2 linked regions of the Homo sapiens genome follow. The protein of the gene in region 1 purifies or fractionates together with the protein of each later gene. This does not show direct contact. Each region holds a gene or a part of one and is shown in the gene's direction. Other genes may lie near its edges. The genes, in order: SEPTIN6 and RAP1GDS1.

What was found.
Region 2: the proteins of SEPTIN6 (region 1) and RAP1GDS1 purify together in Homo sapiens (affinity purification with mass spectrometry; 3 studies listed by BioGRID and IntAct, with this or other methods). This does not show direct contact.

What each region holds. Positions count from the first base shown.
Region 1 is NC_000023.11:119,680,514-119,692,610, reverse strand, and holds part of SEPTIN6 (septin-6), read left to right. Parts: intron 1-12,097. UniProt on the Homo sapiens protein: Filament-forming cytoskeletal GTPase. Required for normal organization of the actin cytoskeleton. Involved in cytokinesis. May play a role in HCV RNA replication.
Region 2 is NC_000004.12:98,408,417-98,420,513, forward strand, and holds part of RAP1GDS1 (rap1 GTPase-GDP dissociation stimulator 1), read left to right. Parts: intron 1-8,328; coding exon 8,329-8,472; intron 8,473-8,950; coding exon 8,951-9,082; intron 9,083-10,240; coding exon 10,241-10,375; intron 10,376-11,602; coding exon 11,603-11,728; intron 11,729-12,097. UniProt on the Homo sapiens protein: Acts as a GEF (guanine nucleotide exchange factor) for the Rho family of small GTP-binding proteins (G proteins) that stimulates the dissociation of GDP to enable subsequent binding of GTP.

The sequences.
Region 1 (12,097 bases):
TGAGTGGCGAGGGGGGCGGGGAGGTGACTGGCTGGGATAGGGTTTCTCTATATGCATTACATATGTGACTGCGTCTGTGTGTGTATCGGTGTGCGCGTATGTGTGCACGCGCGCGCGCTCGTGTCTTCCCGGGCGGGCGGCGGCGGCGCCGGGGTTCTGTCTGTGACCCAAAGAAGTCCGCGTGTTTCTCTGAGTGTGCTCACCTCTGTGGTGTGTGTCCGAACGCCTCTCTGTCTGCTTGTGCTGTGTGCCTCTGGGTCTCATTTGTGCGTCAGTGTGGGGTGCAGTTGGCTGGCCTGTAGGTGGCTGGCTGCGTATTTTGGCATGTTTTGGAGCGGGCCTCTGAGGATCTGTCTCGGGTGCATGTTCAGTGTAACTGGGCTTGTGTGCCAAAACCTGTGGAGCTGGCTTCTTTCTATGGAGACTCAGGAAAATAAGTGTGAGACTCGCAAAAGCGGTGCCGTCTCTTTTTTTGTTGGCGACCGACTCTGGGAAAAAAAAAATCTTCATTTAAAGAACTGAAGTTTTCCAGCCTGGGATGTGCAGAGAAACCATGTTGAAGTGACCTGAGGCTCCATGTTTGTTTTTTAAACCAGAAGTTTGGTTGCAAAGGGCGATGAATTCCATTTGGGGGGGACACCCTAGCTATTCTATTCATCCATGGGTATCTGGGACTTTAATAAGCCCACCAGCACCCCGAGGTGAGGAAGGAGTGGGAGACAGAGGTAGGTCAAATCCCATGACACCACATACTACTTGACGAAAATCTCTGAACCACATAAAAATGTTTTTCAACCTTGTAGCTTACTTATTTAGGAAAATAGTTCATGCAATGCAACTACAGTACAAAAAAAAAGCCTCTAGGTATTTGGTGTAATTGAAATTGATTTTACAAAATCTGAAGCCAGAATCTGATAATATTTTCTCTACAGAATATGTATTAATGTCTCTTTTGTCCCTGTTTGGAAGGGCAGGATCATTTCTTCGGAACCTCCTCCACCCCCTGCACACCCTAGCACAGAGCACTTTATGCAGTCATGTTGTGGAAGGACCAGGAGTAGACAGGGGACATTCTCTGTGATGATGCAATTTGAGAGAATTTTCTTCCCCCAAGATTGGCACTCTCGTTGTTTATTGCTTTAGTGTTTTGAGGGCTCCCTCTTTTCTGCTGTGGCTTTTCTGCTCCTGGTTACCTGCATTTCAGAGATGGTATAGCTGAAGTAGAGGAATTAATCTCTGGGATTACACTAGCTCCATCCAAAAATGACGCTAATGATTTTTCATGTCAGCTAATGAATTTGCATCGACCTGTCCTCCATACTCTCACCAGTTTCTCTTGCCTGGATTAGGATTGCAGGGCAGATGTTGCAATGGGGAACATTCCAGAAGGTTGTGTGTGTTTCACCTCAGGCACAACTCAGGCAACCTAGAGATGCCCTTTGTTCTGCAGATGGGGGTGAGGGGGTGCTTTAGGGCCACTTGGTTTGCTTTGCATGGCTCCAGTTTGCTCTGGCTGGCCTTGCCATACTGTATGATGAAGAACATAATTGTACGCCAGATTCTGAAGCTGAAAGAGCAGCCTAAGCACTCGAGACCTTGTTATCGTGATAAATGGGTTTCTGGGAAAACTGACGTCACTCTCCATGCCCCCCTCCCCCAGCCAGTGAAGCTCCTGTTTATGTGTCATTTGTCTCTCTGTTCTCCTTTGTGTCTGCAATAAGTTGTAATTCACCAGGGAAGACGGAGTTAACTCAGGAGACCTTGGACATCTGGTTGCTGCTTGTTTCCTCCAAGGAACATGTATTCAGGGTTTGGGAACAGAAGACTAGAGAATAAACCTAAGTGTGGCTAGCTTAGGAATTCTTTTTTTTTTTTTTTTTTTTTTTTGAGACGGAGTCTTGCTCTGTTGCCCAGGCTGGAGTGCAAGTGGCATGATCTCGGCTCACTGCAACCTCAGCCTCCCAGGTTCAAGCGATTCTCCTGCCTCAGCCTCCCGAGTAGCTGGGATTACAGGCACCCGCCACCACACCTGGCTAGTTTTGATATTTTTAGTAGAGGGGGGTTTTCACCATGTTGGCCAGGCTGGTCTCGAACTCCTGACCTTGTGATCCACCCGCCTCAGCCTCCCAAAGTGTTGGGATTACAGGCATGAGCCACTGCTCCCGGCCAGGAATTCTTTTTAATGAGCTCTGAGACGTGGTACCATGCGAGTAAGTGCCCTAGTGTGTGTGTGTGTGTGTGTGTGTGTGTGTGTGTGTGTGTATGTGTATGTATGTGGGGGGTGTGTTCTTTCTAGAATCAGTTGAGAGTCACTGTGGGTAAACATCCTTAGTGACTAAAACAAGCCTTCAAGTTGTTGGGTAGGGCTTACATTGCACGCAGCCAACTTGGAAGTTCAATTCTGGTGCACATAATACAAGTCCGTCCCATTTGAATGAACACCACAAACGGTTTGGTGTGACAACACCATTTCTCCACTGTGTCCATATTTACTTGATTGACTGATATGTGGCCAGCACTATGGTTAGCCCTTGTCAACTGGACAAAAAAAGGTAGCAGGCTTTAAAAAACGTTCGTGATCGGACTGGGCTTGGTGGCTCATGCCTGTAATCCCAGCACTTTGGGAGGCTGAGGTGGGCAGATCATGAGGTCAGGAGTTCGAGACCAGCCTGGCCAACATGGTGAAACCCCGTATCTACTAAAAATACAAAAATTAGCCAGGCGTGGTGGTGCGTGCCTGTAATCACAGCTACTCAGGAGGCTGAGGCAGAAGAATCGCTTGAACCCTGGAGGCAGAGGTTGCAGTGAGCCAAGATTGCACCACTGCACTCCAGCCTGGGCAACAGAGCGAGACTCCATCTCAAAAAAGAAAAAAAAGAGGCCGAGGTGGGTGGATCACAAAGTCAGGAGATCGAGACCAGCCTGGCTAACATGGTTAAATCTCATCTCTACTAAAAATACAAAAAATTAGCCAGGCGTGGTGGCGGGCACCTGTAGTCCCAGCTACTGTGGAGGCTGAGGGTGTGAACCTGGGAGGCGGCACTTGCAGTGAGCCGAGATCGTGCCACTACACTCCAGCCTGGGCGACAGAGTGGGAATCCGTCTCAAAAAACAAAACAAAAAAAAGTTCGTGGCTTTTAAGCTTATAGTCTAGTTGGAATGACAAATTGTGGACACTGTGAAATAATTAAAGAACTATAGAAGATCCTTGTGATGCCCCACCTCACCCCCTGACTATGAGGTGGCTTGGGCTGCTATTAATATATATTTCGAGAGGTTCCATGACTTGTCCAAGGTAACCAAGGCACAGGGCAAGCCCCAAAAGCTGCATGTGCTGGCTCTTTTAATGAGCTGTTCCTTTCAATGTTGCATTCTGGGATCCAGACCGTAAATGCCGGCCCATACCAAGAGCATCTGGATGATTCTGGCTTGAACTAGTCCCACAATGTGAACAATGAAGCTTTCTCTAGTGGCAATCTAGGTAGTGGTCATTCTCCCAAGTGAACTTTCAGGGGCTAACTTTGCCCTACAAAGTTAGCTGGGGTTGGTCTGGGTCAACTGTCTCAGAGCAACTGTCTTCAGGTGGGGAAAAGATTGCTGCTGCACTCTGGTTTTGCTATCATCACGTGGCAGTTACCCTTTGATTCCCTTTGAGGTCTCTGCTTCAGGCGTTCCTACCACCACCCACTAAAGGTAGTATCGTACCTCAAACATAGAAAACAAAACCCTATTACCTAGCTCTATTGGTGATACAACACGGAAGAAAGTTTACATGGCCCTAAATATTTAAAAATGTTGATTCTAAATTTGAGGGGTTTTTGGACAGTCATTACATTATTTTCTAACTTCTCTGTGTGTTTGGGATGTTTCTTTTCTTCTTTTCCTTTTTTTTTTTTTTTTCCCCGAGATGGAGTCTTGTTCTGTCGCCCAGGCTGGAATGCAGTGGCGCGATCTCAGCTCACTGCAACCTCCGCCTCCTGGGTTCAAGAAATTATCCTGCCTCAGCCTCCCGAGTAGCTGGGATTACAGGTGTGCACCACCGTGCCCAGCTAATTTTTGTATTTTTAGTAGAAACAGGGTTTCACCATGTTGGCCAGGCTGGTCTCGAACTCCTGACCTCGTGATCTGCCCACCTTGGCCTCTCAAAGTCCTGGGATTACAGGTGTGAGCCACAGCGCCCGGCCTGGGATTTTTCAAAATAAAAAGCGGGCAGAATGACAATGTCCCCCAAATGCACATGGTCCCTTCTTTCAAGGAACTGGTGGAGGCAGACACAAATCACTATCTAATTATCTTTGTGATAAGTGCTACACAGGAGAGTGACTGCCTGCCATGAGATTTCATTACTAAGGGAACCTAACTCAGCAATGAATGGAGGCAGAGGGTGACAGGAAGGGCTTCCTGAGGGCTTCAAATAGGAAATGGGTAGGTGTGAAGGTGGGTGAGATCTCACATCTGCTACTGGGTTGGGAACATTTCATTTGCCAATTCACCCACTTTTATTTTCATTCATTCCTTCAGCACATATTCACTGGGCACTGATCGGCCAGGCCCCGTGCCAGGTGCTGAGGATATAGTGGTGGCCAAGGCACGCAGGAACTCTGCCCTCTCACAGCTTCCAGATGAAAGGCAGGAATAAGCCCTGTTTCCTTTTTACATCCTAAATCCTGGAAATGTGAGTGTTAGCGGTGTTCTTAATACAAAACTACATTATAGCAGAGTGATTTGTCTGTATCATCTAATGAGATTTTGATCTGCAGTCATGTGCATAGCATTTACTTTGTGGAGTCTCTGCTGTAAATTTTCTATTAATTGCTGGCTTTGTTACCAAGCATGGCCACTGCCTTTGTGTGCTATAAGGGAGCAAACCTATTGCATTAGCCTGAGCAAAGCCAATTAGGAAGATAAGTCCTCTGGAAAAAGGTATTCCCAAACTAAGTAGGGCTGATTTCTGGACTTGCCTGGGTTTTTGGATGATCAGAGCCATGGTTTAATATTAGCATGAACAATTGAGAAGGGCTTTTAGTTGCATGTACATTAAAACTACATTCAAGACAGATGAGGCCAGGTGCGGTGGCTCACGTCTGTAATCCCAGCACTTTGGGAGGCCGAGGCGGGCAGATCATGAGGTTAGGAGATCCAGACCATTCTGGCTAACACGGTGAAACCCCATCTCTACTAAAAATTAAAAAATTAGCCGGGCGTGGTGGCGGGTGCCTGTAGTCCCAGCTACTCTGGAGGCTGAAACAGGAGAATGGCGTGAACCCGGGAGGCGGAGCTTGCAGTGAGCCGAGATTGTGCCACTGCACTCCATCCTGGGCGACAGAGTGAGACTCCGTCTCAAAAAAGAAAAAAAAAAAAAGACAGATGAAAGAAAGAAAGAAGGAAAGAAGGAAAAAGAAGGAAAGAAGGAAAGCCATGGATATATATAACATGTTTCTTTCAACGATCTCGAAATGCTTCCATCTGTATGATTTCATTTTCCCCAATGGCTTCCTGGACAAGTATTACTGTTCCCTTTATTTAATGGGTGTAGGGAGACCAAGTTACTTAGTCCGAAGTGCTATTGCTGGTCAGTGGGTGATACGATTAAACACCCACCAGATGACACAGATTCCTTGTTTAAAAACACTTGTCTTTTCATGATGTTTCTAAGACATCAAAATCCTGCCATGACCTCTCTTCCCCCTCTTTTCACTACACTCCCTCAGCACTCCCATAGGGCCCAGGGAAGAGTATACTAGGGTGATTCGGAGACTCTCTGATATTAAAAAGATTCTCAGCTTAAATCCAATATAGCACAGTCACGGGTTGTGTGGGTTTTCTTTTTTATTTTTTCTTCTCCATATTGCTTTAAATAAAAATCTTGGAGCCACCAGCCATGTAATGATGGATTATTTTAAGTAACAACTGGAGTGGGGGGCGCAGAATAAATTAGAAACACAGACCCTTCCTCCTCAGTTTGGCAGGAGGAGGCTTCTGCTGCTGGGATTTGAAACCGTGGGTTTCTCTGCCGCCTGCACAGAGGAAGGAGGCCACATGCTCAGGAGGGTGAGAAATAATGTTATCCTCTTCTTCAGTGTCTTCTCATTAGAGGCAGCCATCTGCTGAATTATGCAGCGCGCTCTCAGCCGGCCCTTCCACTCACTTAAAGGTGACCAGGGAAAAGATCTGCAGGCCTTCTCAGCGAGAGGCCTCAGGGCTCAGGTTTCCCCTGCCATGGCCCTCTCTGACCCGGAATGAAGGCCCTGGGGTAACGGGGCAGAACTCTGTTTTCCTGGCCCTGATGAGGTGTGAGGTCGTGTTCGGTTTCCTTTCACATTGGAGGCCCCCAGCTCTGAACACTGGCGCTGAGGCAGGAACTGGGTTTTTTTCAGATCCCCATTAAACAAGACCAGATGGAGGCAGAGGCAAATTCAGGCTCCCCAGAGGGCAGTTGGGCATTCACCCAGAGGCCTGTGGGTAAACCTTTTCTTTTTTAGCAGATTGGAGGTAACAATAGCCAGAACACCTAGAAAACTCTCTTTCAATTGTCTGGCTTCCAGGGAATCTGGCTGGCTTTTGTGGGAAAGTTTCACTCACCCTGAGCAAGGGTCACCCCTGGCCTGAGGTGGGGATATTTGACCTAGACTTAGGCTTGTGTTAGTCTTGGGGTTCTTCAGCAGAACTGGGCAGCTGGCCAGGCTGAGACTTAGGCCGCAGTCAAAAGAGAGGGAAACAGGAGGAAAAAGTGGGGAAGTGAGTAGAGAGCAGGAACACACAATGAGTGCCTTCCACCGCATTGACTGCTTCAGTTGCCTTCTGTGGGCCAGAACCACCTTGGGGAGCTCACGGGTTTCCAGATTCGGTTCCTTGACCCTTCTGCCCCTGACCAGCATCAAGCCAGAAGCTCAATGTCCCGGAATTTTACCAGTCTAAAGAAACACATGTGCCACTTGAGTCAGCTTTTCCATTTGAGAGTGGCCGTTGGCTCGACAGGGGCCTGGATCCTAGCACTATTCTCTGTCACTAAATCAGTCTGTGACGTGAGCCAAGTCACTTCCTCTCTGTGAGTCTCTGTTTCCCCTTTTGTGAAACGAAAGGGCTGGATTAGGTGATCTTTAAGGGCGTTTCCAGCTCTAACATTGTATGGTGCTTATGTTTCCTTTTTCTCCAGCCTCATTTCTTTTAGGTCCTTGCCTGCGTCTGCTTCCGAATGAGGTGGCAGAATTGAACCCCACCCCTTCCCTGCTTTGACCCCTTGAGCTGGGTGGGGAGAGAGTCGTAGGGAAGGTCGATCTATGCTTTTAGCTCAGCAGGCTCTCGGTAAGTGGAACAGAAACAACCCTTCAGATATTGCCTGTCCATGTAGGTGTAGATAGCTATTGTCTTCCTATAAAGGTACATGACAGCTGAATGTTTGTCTATTGAATCCTGCTTTCAATGCAGTAGAAGAGCCGGCTACTTAATGGAATCCTGCTGTGAATCCTTTTATAGAATGAAAAGCCACTCTGGAATTTATCTTGTGTATTAAAATCAGTTTCATCTATTGGATTTGCCAAAAATGGGCCTCCTCCTCTGTCTGGTAAGGATAGTCTGTCTTGTGCTTCTTCAGCACAACTGCTCCCCAACTGAAGGGCATTTCTGAGGCCCCTTGGGGGTGCTGCCAGCTTTTGCAGGCCTTATTTCTCCTTAGAACAGCCCCCACATTTCTCTTTCCCAGGATAGGGCATTGCTACTACTCAGTTTCCTCTTAGCCTGGCTTAATTAGCATGAGGGACATTCTGATATTTGATGTGTTGGATGCATTTGAGAATTGTTTTTAAAACCTGTGGGAACTTGGCTGTGTGCGGGGGCTCACACCTGTAATCCCAGCACTTTAGGAGACTGAGGCGGGCGGATCACCTGAGGTTAGGAGTTCGAGACCAGCCTGGCCAATATGGCAAAACCCCGTCTCTTCTAAAAATACAAACATTAGCTGGATGTGGTGGTGGGCGCCTGTAATCCCAGCTACTCGGGAGGCTGAGGTAGGAGAATCACTTGAACCCTGGAGACGGAGGTTGCAATGAGCTGAGATCGTGCCACCGCACTCCAGCCTGAGAGAGACAGAGTGAGACTCCATCTCAGAAAAAAAAAAAAAAAAAAAAAACCTCTGGGAACTTATCAGTGCTTTTGTGGTTCTTATGACATAATACAGCGGCATCCTTGGCAGCATTGGAGGCAGCAGAGGAAGCTATCAGCTACCTGATTGTTTCATCAAGACTTTTTGCTACATGTTTCAGGATATATGATTTGACTTCTGGTTCACATGAATCATTATAATAAGAAATTATACTGTATGACAATAAGTTATATATATAATATGTAATAATAAGTTATAATAAGGGGGCTGGGCACAGTGGCTCACGCCTATATTCCCAGAACTTTGGGAGGCCGAGGCGAGTGGATCACCTGAAGTCAGGAGTTCTAGACCAGCCTGGCCAACATGGTGAAACCCCATCTCTACTAAACTAAAAATACAAAAATTAGCTGGGTGTGGTGGTACACACCTGTAATCCCAGCTACTCAGGAAGCTGAGGCAGGAGAATCGCTTGAAACCAGGAGGGAGAGGTTGCAGTGAGCTGAGATCGCGCCACTGCACTCCAGCCTGGTTGACAGAGTGAGACACTGTCTCAAAAAAAAAAAAAAAAAGAAGTTATAATAAGGAGACTAATAGGGTTTTATTGTATTTCTGGTAAAATAAATGTTTTATATACAATAAAACTGCCTGAAAGCTAAATGCTCTGATGACCCAAATTGTCAGGCACCTTTTTGGTTGTAGTTCAATATTTTTCTAAAATACCTGAGGCCACTTTCCTACCCAGGAAAGTATCATCATAGAATCTTTTTTAAAAAAGTAACATTTTCCCTGTTTATAAAAGTAAAATATGCCTATTGTAGAACATTTGGAAAACCCAGAAAAGCAACATCACCTACAACCTCTCTACCCAAAAGAAATCACTGACATTATTTTGGCATGTGTTCTTCTAATCTTTTAAAAAATGTGTATTTTCCCCCATCATTGGGATGACCCTGTGTATACAGGTTGGTTTTCCTGTTGTTGTTTGCCTTTGGTGAGCATTTCCTTTTGTCATTAAATATTCTTAGAAAACATTTTTCTCAGCTGCTTAATATTCCATCATGTATCACTGAACCGATGATTCATAGTCTTGGAGATTTGCACGGTCTTTCAGACATCAGTGTTCAGGGCTGAGAGTGGAAATGGAGAAAAGGGAGGTGTGAGAGCTTGGGCCCACCAGTAGGTGACTGAAGAGAGTCCGGTTTCAGTGTTTCTTTTCTTTCCTAGCATTTTTGTTGTTGTTGTTTGTTTGTTTGTTTTGAGACAGAGTCTCCCTCTGTTGCCCAGACTGGAGTGCAGTTGTGCGATCTCAGCTCATTGCAACCTCCGCCTCCTGCGTTCAAGCGATTCTCCTGCCTCAGCCTCCCAACTGGCTGGGACTACAGGCATGAGCCACCAAGCCTGGCTAATTTTTGTATTTTCAGTAGAGACGGGTTTTCCCAGTGTTGGCCAGGCTGGTTTCGAATTCCTGGCCCCAAGTAATCTGCCCGCCTTGGCCTCCCAAAGTGCTGGGATTACAGGCATGAGCCACCGTACCTGGCCGCTTTCCTAGTATTTGGATGGGAATGGCCAGAGGAGAAAGTTTAGGGACAGCCTAGTCATCAGCAATGAGTTTCAAACTTTTTGCTTTTATTCTTTAGAATGACAGCTACTAATTTAGCCACCCTGGTTTGAAACAGAGGCGGGAAATTCTCCATTGACACAGATGCACCCTCAGTTCCCAGAGGCCTCAAATACGGCTTGCTTACTATCACAGAGGTTGGAAGAGGGGCCAAGGGGAGTGGGGGACAGAGGTGGCCTACTCGGGTGCTTAAGGGACTCTTTATTTTCAGTAACAGCAATGAGAGAAAGATGCGCAGCTGGAACCACCATAACTTGTTCTTGATAATATGAACCTTACGAATATTCAATTAAAAAACGAAATTGGTGTGTCCTCAGGAGAGGAGGCAGAAGAGAAAGAGAGCAGTGTTTCTGCCTGTGATATGAAATGTGGTATAACGTATTTAAAAACCACAGGTGACTGCAGATGAGGAGAAAACAGGAAATGTAATTGGGGAGGGGAGTGGGGCGCTCTCCCAGTTCTCAGGAGCACTCTTTCATTTTGCCTTCCTTTTAGCTCCTCTCAGACTCTCTGCATCCTAATTACCCCTGCTGCAAAGCTGAGTGAGAACTCTTCTTTCTTATATTAAAAATGTTTTAAAATTACATGGGTAACATGCGAATACATTCGTGCTATAAAAGAGTCAAACAATAGGGAAGCATACCGACTACTCCCTTGACTGAGCCCCTATTTCCATCCCCCTCCCCTGAGGTAGCTACGATTGTGGGTTTGGTGGCTGTATTTTCAGTCTTCTTTCTATGCATCCACATACATTTACGTGCAAATACACATCTACAGGGCTTCTGGGGCATATATGGGCTCATATTGTGCTTATAGTTTACAACTTCTATTTTCTTTTTTTTTTCTTTCTTTTTTTTGAGACAGGGTCTCACTGTTGCCCAGGCTGGAGTGCAGTGGCACAATCTTGGCCCACTACATCCTCGACCTACCGGGCTCAAGCAATCCTCCCACATCAGCCTCCTGGGTAGCTGGGACTACAGGTGTGTGCTAACACACTTGGCTAATTTTTGTATTTTTTGTAGAGACGGGATTCTGCTGTGTTGCCCAGGTTGGTCTCAAACTCCTGGGCTCAAGCGAGCCACCTGCCTCGACCTCCCAAAATGCTGGGATTACAGTCATGTAATAACTTCCATTTTCTTCTATTTTATTACAGTCGCCCTATAACTTCTGTTTTCTGTTTTATAATATGTCTTGGAGATACTCACATCAGTACATACAGAACTACCCACATGCTTCTTAATGGATGTAGAATATTCCAGAATATGCGTGTACCATAATTTGGTTAAATATTTTCCTATTGTTGGACATTTAGGTTGGGTTTTTTTTTTCAGCATTATAAACTGTGCTGTAATAAATTTCCTTGTAATAGATCTTTGTACAGATTCTGAGAGGAGGTTGCAGGGTTATGAGAGAAGTGCAATTTAAAATGGTGACTTTGGCCATTCCAGCATCTCAGTTCAGGCCTTCAGTATGGTAATATGGCACCACCTGCTACTAAAGATGAAAACTTGAGATTTACTGTCAGACATGCTGGGCCAAGTTGCCGGTTCCATCTCCTCTCGTGCACATTGTAGTCAAGGAACATTCAATTAACTGCAATCAAAGTAATCAGGCCCTCAATTAATCAGGCCACCTTAAGGAGAAAGAGGAAAGAGATAAGATATCAGAGATTTAGTGAGAGAGGAGGGGAGAAACTTCCAGGGGCTGTGCTGGGGTCAGTGTACATTCAGTTCAATGTTGTGTCCTTCTGTCCTTCCTACCTTTGCGTATTTAACTCTGAACAATGCGGACTGATACTCATAATGATGACCTTGACATCTTATAAGATTCATCAAAGCAAGGGTGCATAGTGTTTGCCAGACAGGATTTCCTAAAGTAGGAACTATACAAATACATTTTTTTTTTTTTTTTGAGACAGAGTCTTACTCTGTCGCCCAGCCTGGAGTGCAGTGGCGTGATCTCGGCTCAATGCAACCTCTGCCTCCCGGGTTCAGGTGATTCTCCTAACTCAGCCTCCCGAGTGGCTGGGACTACAGGCATCTGCCACCGCGCCCAGCCAATTTTTGTATTTTTAGTAGAGACGGGGTTTCACCATGTTGGCAAGGCTGGTCTTAAACTCCTGACCTCATGATCCACCCGCCTCGGCCTCCCAAAGTGCTGGGATTACAGGCGTGAGCCATCGTGCCTGGCCACAAATACATTTTTGAAGCTTTCTTAGCTACAGGGATTGAGACAAAAAGTTTGCTGCTTAAATCCCAGTTAGCAAGAAAAACACATTGACCAGGTTCTATGTCCCTTCTTTCCCAAACTCCTCAGTTAATTTAGGTGTATTGGACACTGGGTAACAGATACAAAAGAAATAAGGATTCTAAAAGTCA
Region 2 (12,097 bases), on another chromosome or scaffold:
GCCACCGTGCCTGGCCTGATGCCAATATATTTTAAAGTATGACTGATACAAGAATAGAAAAGCTGAGTAATCTTACCTTAAGAATTCTTCCAGAGAATAGGAAAAGGAAATATACTTACCAATTTATTTTAATGAGGCTAATGAAACCTTTATACCAAATCCCAACAAAGACAATACATGAATGAAAATTAAAGGCTAGTCTCACCATGAACATAGATCCAAAATTCCTCCTAAAATTTTAGCAAATTTACTCTAGTAATATATTAAAAAAATTAATCACACCAAATTGCATTTATTCTGAAAGTGTAACACAATTTAATATTTGAAATGCAACTAGTATAATTCATCACCTTAAAATATTTAAGGGGAGAAACCATGATCTTCTCAGATTTTAAAAAAAGCTTTTCATAAAATTAAGTGTTCATTCATTATTTTTAAAAACTTAGGAAAACAGGACTAGGAAGGTCTTCAATCTGAAAAAGATATCTATGAGAAGGCTGAAGAAAACATCACAATCAATGGTGAAATAAAAAAGCATTTGCTTTGAGATTGGGACAAGAAGGATCATCCCCGCTTCCATTTAACATTGTATTGTAAGAAGTATCCAGTGCATTAAAGAGAATAAAAGAAAAAAAATTAAGATAAAGCAATAAAACTCTCATTCATTTATGATGTGATTATGCATATTTAATTCAAAAGAATCTATAGATCAGTTTTATAGATCTTTTTTTAAATCAGAATTTTGTTAGGTTACTGCCAAAAAACAAACAAGAATTTCTATATACCAAAAAAGAAAAAACAGAAAATAAAATGTGAAAAATACGTTGGATAGCCCTTTTAGCTGGAACTGCCACCTTCCAGTAATTTAACAAAATAATGAACACAAAGGGAAAGAGAAGCATCTGATATGTATTCTGTAGGCCTTTTAGAAAATACGGAGTTGTTCCTTTAGCCACATACATTCAAATCTACAGGAAAGGTGATATTGTAGACATCAGAGGAATGCATCCTGTTCAAAAAGGGAATGCCCCACAAATTTTACCATGGAAAACCAAGAGTCTATGGTGTTACCCGGCATGGTACTAGTGTTGTTGTAAACAAACAAGGGCAAGATTGTTGCCAAAATAATTAATGTGTATAATGAGCATATTAAGCACTCAAGAGCCAAGATACCTCCCCGAAACACATGAAGGAAAGATAGGAAAAGAAAAAGAAGGGAGCCAAAGAGAAATGTACCTGAGTTCAACTGAAGCAACAGTCTGTTCCACCTAGAGAAGCGCACTTTGTGAGAACAAACGGAAGGGGCCTGAGCTGCTGGAACCTCTTCCCTATGAATTCATGGCATAATAGGTGTTTTCAAGATAAAAGGCTTCTAGACTATTAAAAAGTATATAAAAAATTAATTCCAGATAGATTGACCTAAATGTGAAAGTTAAAACTTCAGAGGGTTTATCTTAAAATGTAAGCTAGGAGAATATCATCATGGCCTTGAAATACTTTTCTTAGATCACAAAAAGCTCTAATCATAAAGGAAAAAATTGAGACATTGGTTACTTTAAAAGTAAAACTTCTGGCTAGCCTGGTGGCTCATGACTGCAATCCTAATGGCTTTGGGAGGGCAAGACGAGGATCACTTGAGACCAGGAGTTCGAGACCAGCCTGAGCAACATAGTGAGGCCTCATCTCTACCAAAAACAAATAAATAAAAGTTAAAACTCTTTTTTTAAAGACACCGTTAAGAGTGAAAAGCAAGACTGGATGAGAGAATATAATTATAACATATAACTGACAGAGGGCTTGTGTATACAGTGTATAAAAACTCTTAAAAATCATTAAGAAAAATGTGAAAAACATTTTAATAAGCACTTGACAAAAGATTTATATTAAGTCCAACAGACTTAATATAGATATGAAAATGTTCACTCTTAGGTAACACAAAATAAAACCACAATAAAATACCACTATACACCCACTGGAAAGTCTCATAAACCAACTGTTGATGAGGGTGTGGAACAGTGGGAGTGTAAATTGGTACAATTGGGAAGTAGTATCTATTGAAGTTGAAGCAATAGATCCAACAATTCTGCTCTTAGAAATATACCCAGAAGCTTGTGCACATGTATACCAGGAACTGTTACAGGAATGTTCAAAGCAGCATTATTTATAATGAAAAATTGGAAACAACCAAAATCCATTAACAGTAGAATGAATAAATCATAGGATATTAATATAATGGAAAAATATAGAGTTATGAAAAGGAATGAAGACAGCTGTAACCATTACTGTGGATGAATCTCATAATGTTGAAAGGAAAAAGCCAACACTGAAAAATACATATTGTATGATTCAATTTATATAAAGTTAAAAACAAAAAGTAAAACTAAACTGTAGTTTTTAGGAATGATTATTTACTTGGTAAAATGATGAAAGTATAGAAGTGATTACCATAATAACCAGGATGATTTGAGACAAATGAAGGAAGGGGTTTGTTATCAGAAACAGAAATGCAGAGATAGGCTTCCTGAGTTGTTGGCAATGAATTTCTTGATCTAGGTGATAGATACATGGTTATTTGCTTTCTAATAATATATTAAACTTAACTTGGATATTTTATGCACTTCTCTGCATTTGTGGTTTTCTTTCACTCTTTAAAAAAAGTTTTAAAATACCTATATATGATGCATACATGATACATACAAGTGTACATTCATACATATGTGTGTAAACAGTGGTGATAAAGATACTTGTCCTTGGACAGAATGGTTTTGGTAAATGTGCTGGGCTGTCTGCTTTGGCAGAATGTCTTGCTAATCCTAATTAAGGTAGTTTAAGCCTCCTATATATTTGTTTTCAGGTATTTGATTTCAGTCAAATTGTGAGAAGAGATTATCTGTAAACTTTAACATTGAGACATTTAGGCTGGGAGTGATGGCTTACGCCTGTAATTCCAGCACTTTCAGAGGCCAAGGCAGAAGGATTGCTTGAGCCAGGAGTTCAAGACCAACCTGGGCAACACAGCAAGACCCTGTCTCAAAAAAAAAAATTAATTAAAATTTTAAAACTACAATATTGACACATTTAAAATTTCTTAAATGTCTTAGGTCCTATTTCTTAGGGAGAAATTTGTTTTTTATCTCATTGGTGTTTTGGCAAAGTAAAAATTTTACTGTGACCTTCAGTCAATTTTAGGCCATAAAATAACCTATAACTTTCCTTGCAGTATTTCAAAATAACAATGTGTTGATATTTATTACTGTTTTCCCCTCTGCCTTCACATCTGTTTTATAATTGCACAATGGATAGGATGATACCATTGAAGGCTTGTTTTTGGACTAATTCTTTGCATGTATCATCCTTCATTTTCCCAGTACACGAAGGAGAGTGATTTCAGCATTAGAAGTTGGGATTTGTATAGTTCAAGGATTTTAGTATTTTTAAGGCTTTTTCATCATAGTTTTTAATTCTAGTCACCACACATCTCTAGCCCTAGCATTCTGTAACCAAGGAAACGCCCTACTTTTAGCATGGCACAGTACAAGTGTACCTTTTAAAGAAATATTCCAGGTTGAATACTCTGTGTATTCTGAGATAATATTCAAAAGAAGATCAGTGATCCTAGTGATTCAAAAAAGCCAAATTTTAACACATTAAAATTGCCTGAAAGTCTTAAGTATTTATTTTTAAAAGTCTTTATTTTTCCTAAATGATAAGCTGAAGCTGCCATTGCCATATATGGATGCATATACAGCTTAGGGAAACCAATGACTAAAATAAAATCCAACTGAAAAAATAAAGTTTAAATTTAAAAATTTCTGGCCAGGTACAGTGGCTCATGCCTGTAATCCTAGCACTTTGGGAGGCCAAGGCAGGAAGATTGCTTGAGGCCATGAGTTCAAGACCAGCCTAGGCAACATAGTGAGACCCTGTCTCTACAAAAAAAGTTTAAAAATTAGCCAGGCATGGTGGCATGCACTTTTAGTCCCAGCTACTCAGGAGGCTGAGATAGGAGGATTGCTTGAGCCCAGGAGTTCAAGGATGCAGTGAGCTATGATCATACCACTGCGCTCCAGCCTGGGCAACGGAGCGAGACACTGTCTCTTAAACAAAAAATCTGTGTTGCAAATGTATTTTTCAGGTGAGTTGACTAGCATTTATCTTAAGGAGTATCAACTACACTCAAAGCATTTAGATAGGCCAGTTTAGGTTAAGATACAAAGATGAGTAAGGTGTATCTATTGGGGGAACCAGCCCCCAATATTTCAATGTATGTTCTATTTTCCCTAAATGTCGGCCCATCTGAGAAATAGAGAAAGAGTACAAAAAGAGGAATTCTACAGCTGGGCCTCCAGGGGTGACATCACATATCGGTAGGTCCGTGATGTCCCCTGAGCCACAAAACCAGGAAGTTTTTATTAGGGATTTCAAAAGGGGAGGGAGTGTACAGGGAGTAGGTCACAAAGATCACGTGCTTTACAGGGCAATAAAGATCACAAGGCAAGGGCAAAGCAAAGATCACAAGGCAAAGGGCAAAATTAGAATTACTGATGAGGGTCTATGTTTGGCTGTGCACGTATTATCTTGATAAACACCTTAAACAACAGAAAACAGCGTTCGAGAGCAGAGAACCGGTCTGACCTCAAACTTACCAGGGCGGGATCTTTTCCGCACCCTAATAAGCCTGAGGGTACTGCAGGAGACCAGGGCGTATTTCAGTCCTTATCTCAACCGCATAAGACAGATACTCCCAGAGCGGCCATTTATAGACCTCCCCCCAGGAATGCAATTCCTTCCCCAGGGTATTACTATTTTTTTTTTTATTATACTTTAAGTTTTAGGGTACATGTACACATTGTGCAGGTTAGTTACATATGTATACATGTGCCATGCTGGTGCGCTGCACCCACTAACTCGTCATCTAGCATTAGGTATATCTCCCAATGCTATCCCTCCCCGCTCCCCCCACCCCACCACAGTCCCCAGAGTGTGATATTCCCCTTCCAGTGTCCATGTGATCTCATCGTTCAATTCCCACCTATGAGTGAGAATATGCAGTGTTTGGTTTTTGTTCTTGCGATAGTTTACTGAGAATGATGATTTCCAATTTCATCCATGTCACTACAAAGGACATGAACTCATCATTTTTTATGGCTGCATAGTATTCCATGGTGTATATGTGCCACATTTTCTTAATCCAGTCTATCATTGTTGGACATTTGGGTTGGTTCCAAGTCTTTGCTATTGTGAATAATGCCGCAATAAACATACATGTGCATGTGTCTTTATAGCAGCATGATTTATAGTCATTTGGGTATATACCCAGTAATGGGATGGCTGGGTCAAATGGAATTTCTAGTTCTAGATCCCTGAGGAATCGCCACACTGACTTCCACAATGGTGGAACTAGTTTACAGTCCCACCAACAGTGTAAAAGTGTTCCTATTTCTCCACATCCTCTCCAGCACCTGTTGTTTCCTGACTTTTTAATGATTGCCATTCTAACTGGTGTGAGATGGTATCTCATGTGGTTTTGATTTGCATTTCTCTGATGGCCAGTGATGATGAGCATTTTTTCATGTGTTTTTTGGCTGCATAAATGTCTTCTTTTGAGAAGTGTGTGTTCATGTCCTTCGCCCACTTTTTGATGGGGTTGTTTTTTTCTTGTAAATTTGTTTGAGTTCATTGTAGATTCTGGATATTAGCCCTTTGTCAGATGAGTAGGTTGCGAAAATTTTCTCCCATTTTGTAGGTTGCCTGTTCACTCTGATGGTAGTTTCTTTTGCTGTGCAGAAGCTCTTTAGTTTAATTAGATCCCATTTGTCAATTTTGTCTTTTGTTGCCATTGCTTTTGGTGTTTTGGACATGAAGTCCTTGCCCATGCCTATGTCCTGAATGGTAATGCCTAGGTTTTCTTCTAGGGTTTTTATGGTTTTAGGTCTAACATTTAAATCTTTAATCCATCTTGAATTGATTTTTGTCTAAGGTGTAAGGAAGGGATCCAGTTTCAGCTTTCTACATATGGCTAGCCAGTTTTCCCAGCACCATTTATTAAGTAGGGAATCCTTTCCCCATTGCTTGTTTTTCTCAGGTTTGTCAAAGATCAGATAGTTGTAGATATGCGGCATTATTTCTGAGGGCTCTGTTCTGTTCCAATGATCTATATCTCTGTTTTGGTACCAGTACCATGCTGTTTTGGTTACTGTAGCCTTGTAGTATAGTTTGAAGTCAGGTAGTGTGATGCCTCCAGCTTTGTTCTTTTGGCTTAGGATTGACTTGGCGATGCGGGCTCTTTCTTGGTTCCATATGAACTTTAAAGTAGTTTTTTCCAATTCTGTGAAGAAAGTCATTGGTAGCTTTATGGGGATGGCATTGAATCTGTAAATTACCTTGGGTAGTATGGCCATTTTCACGATATTGATTCTTCCTACCCATGAGCATGGAATGTTCTTCCATTTGTTTGTATCCTCTTTTATTTCCTTGAGCAGTGGTTTGTAGTTCTCCTTGAAGAGGTCCTTCACATCCCTTGTAAGTTGGATTCCTAGGTATTTTATTCTCTTTGAAGCAATTGTGAATAGGAATTCACTCATGATTTGGCTCTCTGTTTGTCTGTTGTTGGTGTATAAGAATGCTTGTGATTTTTGTACATTGATTTTGTATTCCCCAGGGTATTATTAATATTCCTTGCTGAGAAAAGAATTCAGTGATATCTCTCCTACTTGCACATCCGTTTATAGGCTCTCTGCAAGAAGAAGAATATGGCTCTATTCTGCCTGACCCTGCAGGCAGTCAGACCTTTGGTTGTCTTCTCTTGTTCTGTAAAATCACTGTTATTCTGTTTGTTTTCAAGGTGCACTGATTTCATATTGTTCAAACACCCATGTTTTACAATCAGACTTCATATTTTTCAAGCACACATGTTCTACAATCAGTTTGTACAATAGTGATCCTGAGGTGATGTACATTCTCAGCTTACAAAGATAACAGGATTAAGAGATTAAAGTAAAGACAGGCATAAGAAATTATGAGTATTATTTGGGAACTGATAAATGTCCATGAAATCTTCACAATTTATGTTTTTCTGCCACGGTGCCAGCCAGTCCCACCATTTGGGGTCCCTGACTTCCCACAACATATATCTGCTCAGGAGATAGATGGAGACAGATATGGAGGCAAATATAAGCTCTTCAGTGAAATAAGTGTTATAATGAAAGAATACTTAAAGATATTAGAAGTATAATAAAAAGTGTTGATGTGGGGGTGGAGTTTCCTATGAAGATCAGTTTTAAAAATGTAATTGGGATGTAAATTCTGTCTCTAAAATACCTTATGTTATGTTTAGCCATCAGAAAGGTTCAAGGTTATTTTTTTCTTTTAACTTTTATTATGAACATTTTGAAATGTATTCAGAAATAGCATTTAGTAAACCACCATGTACCCATCACTCAAGAAAGCTTTAAATCAATGAAAACCTGAAGCCCTTTTTAAAAACACGACTTTATTTATTTATTTATTTAATTTTTATAGACAGGGTCTCACTCTGTTGCCCAGACTGGAGTGCAGTGGCACAGTCATAGCTTACTGTAACCTTGAACTCCTGGCCTCAAGCAATCTTCCTGCCTTGGCCTCCCAAAGCACTGGGATTACAAGTGTAAGCCACCATGCCCAGCCCTATTTTATAGTATTTTATAGCTTGCCCTTTAAACATGAGCATGATATCTAGAGTAATAGTGGAGTGATACTAGTTGCTTTCAGAGCTGAGTATCAATTTGTTTAGATGCTGCAAGACATCCTGAAAAATTTGGCAATTTCAAATGGAAATATGAAATAAAGCTTTTTTGTATATTTAAATGAACTGTCAAGATAGTTTACTTTGAAGATTTGAGTTTCAAAAATGTATTATCTAAATCATGCATTTTCTTAGTTTTTTTTTTTTTTTTTTTTTTTTTTTTTTGAGACAGAGTCTCGCTCTATTGCCCAGGCTGGAGTGCAGTGTTGCAATCTTGGCTCACTGCAAGTTCCGCCTCCCAGGTTCACGCCATTCTCCTGCCTCAGCCTCCTGAGTAGCTGTGACTACAGGCGCCTGCCACTGCACCTGGCTAATTTTTTTTTGTATTTTTTAGTAGAGACGGGGTTTCATGGTGTTAGCCAGGATGGTCTCGATCTCCTGACCTTGTGATCCGCCCATCTCGGCCTCCCAAAGTGCTGGGATTACAGGCGTGAGCCACCGCACCTGGCCCTCTTAGTTTCTTATAATTCTTTATAATGGACTGCTTATACCAGAGCTCCTATTTTATCTCAAAGTTTGATTATTTTGTTCACGTTGTTCTTTAGATGCTATTAAACTACAGCTGGTTGAAGCAGGCCTAGTAGAGTGTCTACTAGAGATTGTTCAGCAAAAAGTGGATAGTGACAAAGAAGATGATATTACTGAGCTCAAAACTGGTTCAGATCTCATGGTTTTATTACTTCTTGGAGGTGAGTTGTAATTTATGCCAGCCAAAGAATGTGGTTGTCAGATGTTTTTAAAATTTATTGTCTCTTCTGTAAATACTACCCTAGACATTTTCTCATATTCCTATCTCACCTGCTATTGAGGTGATGATTTTGACATCTTAAACATGCCATTGATACAACCAGACATAATGAACCTGAAAAAGAAGTGTCTTCACTATCTTCCAGTATTTGAAGAGCTGTCACATAGAAGAGATAGCTTTGGCACCAAGGGACTAAAGAAAAGCTAGATGGCTCCCTGGGACTTGGACTAGAAAAAATGCTAGACTCTATTGTCTAGTATCTATTAAATGTTTATTATAAAAAGAATCATTACTTTTCCCATTATGAATGTAACAGTTTGTGAGGTGTGAGTTTCCAGTTGGATATTCACCTAAGAATGTGAATTTGTTACTCCTAGTTATTTTTCTCTTGCTTAACTATTCGTTTCATTTACCTCCAGATGAATCCATGCAGAAGTTATTTGAAGGAGGAAAAGGTAGTGTATTTCAAAGGGTACTCTCTTGGATCCCATCAAATAACCACCAGCTACAGCTTGCTGGAGCATTGGCAATTGCAAATTTTGCCAGAAATGGTAAGCATATTAGTTCCTCCTTTGTTAGTCAAATACTCTATATTTGTTTATTTTTGCTTTGCTACCACATATACTAAAACTGGAACAGTTTAGAAGTTGTGTAATATGTGTATATGCTGCTAACTTAATTTTTCAGAAATCTGAAATACTTAGTGACATTCCTAACAAATTACATATTTTATGCAATTCAACTAAATTCTAATAGTTTAAATATCATGAAGTGCTTCTTTTGAATACTTGGCACTTCAGAGCTTAGTAAGTTTGAATCCCATTCTAGTATACATCTGCTTTCTTTTGCCTAGTGATTTTATTTTGGATCTAATTATCTGAGTATTCATTCTAGGATTATTGTGCCTCAACTTATATACTTTTATGCCCATAAAACTTAAGTATGAATAATCCCCTGGCATCGTGTAGAATGTTTAATTTAGTTTAATAATGTTTCAGGGGGCGCCAGACTTCTATGTTTATGAAATCTGGCACTACCAAAAAACTCAAATACAGTCTAGAAACTCATTCTTACGTTCCTCATGAAATATACCGTGTCTAGGAAATACAGTTTATTTTTCTTTTTAGTTTAATCATCTTCCAGTACAAACTGTTGGTATATATTATATCATAATGGCTTACTTGCTCCATTTTTACTCCTTCTTTTTGGGAGTGACTTCCTAATTATGGAGGTAAGAGTGGCATAATATGGATAATTATTGAAACTAGATATGGGGTAAATAGTGGTTCATTATAATATTCTCTCCGCTTTGTAAGTGTTTGAAAAATAATTTAGGTATCAGCCATGATAGCAAAAGGTAGAGTACTATCACTGTAACATTGGGAGAACACAAGCATACATCACAATAAATGAAAAATATTGGACATTCTAACCATGTGTTTCTACTTCTGATATATTATCTGGCTCTAAACTAAAGATTTTTCTGGTAATTTTCTGATTTTAAAACTTTTATCTAGTTTAAGAATTTTTTTTAACACTTCTCACTCAGTAAACAGAAAAACCTATAAATCTGATGGGAGAAAGATTTGGAATTCATTTTATTGTATAGCTCCATTTTCCCTAATGTAGATAATAGCCAGACATCAGTATTATAAAGTATTTATAGATATTTTAAAGAGGAAGAAAAAGATGTGTGTTTTTTTTTTCAGATGCAAATTGTATTCATATGGTAGACAATGGGATTGTAGAAAAACTTATGGATTTACTGGACAGACATGTAGAAGATGGAAATGTAACAGTACAGCATGCAGCACTAAGTGCCCTCAGAAACCTGGCCATTCCAGGTAAGACTTAAGAATAGAAGGCAGCTGTGTACAAAATAAAATCCATCATTTGGGGAAGCTATTAACTGTATGTGATTTGTGAACCTGCTCTGATGAAGAAAATTTAAAAAAAAATAGTCTTCACATTGTTCACATTTTTTCATGCTAATAAATGGAGATCATATGTTAAATAAGTTTTGTGAGACTGTACAAGAATAATCTTTGCCTTCATTCAGATATCCTGTTACCTTTTGCGAACTGTTAGATTTTCATCATGTTTTATAGTTAAGCTTTTTTAAGTTTGAGATGGGGTCTCACTCTGTCAGCCAGGCTAGAGTGCAGTGACGCAGTCCTGGCTCACCACAGCCTCTACCTTCTGAGCTCAAGTTATCCTCCCACCTCAGCCTCCTGAGGAACAGGGACTACAGGCATGTGCCACCATGCCCAGCTGATTTTTTTTTTTTGTAGAAACAGGATCTCACTATGTTGCCTAGGCTGGTCTTGAACTCCTGGGCTCAAGCAGTCCACCCACCTTTGCCTCCTAAAGTGCTGGGATTACAGGTGAGAGCTACTGCACCAGGCCTTAGGCATCTTTAGTTGAGGTAGAATAATGACATCAATTAACAGAGTCCACTCAAGAATGACTTTCAGTTGTTGTTTTTCTATAAGCAGATGTACAATTTTTTTAAAATAGCCTTAATGTGCCTTTGGAAGTCATGAAATCACTGTATTATGGAAAATACAACAAAAGATAGTTAAAACTATTCTTTTATCCTACTTTCTAAAAATAAATTTCTGATTAGATGAAATAGTACAATTACATGATGATCCAATCCATTTGAATTCATTTGGTTTACATAGGATAGTAACATTTATTAATGTCTATAACATTTATATTAACACAGTTGGATCAAAAACGGAATTGTGCTTTTTGTTGTAAGAGGGTAACATTTTCAGATTTCCTTTACAAACTATGTAAGTAAGTGTTTTGGATTGGATCTAAAAAGCCATGATACTGTCATAAAAATTATTATATTGTCTGTTATCCGCTTATACACAAATAGGATACGGACACACACATAAACAACTGAATTCCATTCTTAAAATTGACAAAAAAGTGACAAGATTGTTTCTAAATGGAAAAATAAAACATGGATCTTAAAGATACTTAATAAACCTGTATTGAATTGAATGTTTATCAACAGGAATGCTAATACCATTTTAACCATAGTCTCTCTTTTTCTCCAGTTATAAATAAAGCAAAGATGTTATCAGCTGGGGTCACAGAGGCAGTTTTGAAATTTCTTAAATCTGAAATGCCTCCTGTTCAGTTCAAACTTCTGGGAACATTAAGAATGTTAATAGATGCACAAGGTAAAAGAAATGTTTTCCCCAACTTGCATTTTTCATATGATAGTCTTAATGTGCCTCTAGTTGAAAAAGGACTTGTTTTTAGCTTTTAGGATTATGTAATCATAAAAAATAGCAAATAAAAGATTTAAAAGTTGGTTTTGGAACTCCATTTGTTAATTTTTATGCTTGTTATAATTATTTATTTATACATATTATTTATTTATTTATTTATTTATTTATTTGTTTATTTATTTATTTTTGAGACAGAGTCTTGTTCTGTCACCCAGGCTGGAGTGCAGTGGTGCGACCTCAGCTCACCGCAACTTCCGCCTCCTGGGTTCAAGCAATTTTCCTGCCTCAGCCTCCTGAGTAGCTAGGATTACAGGCATG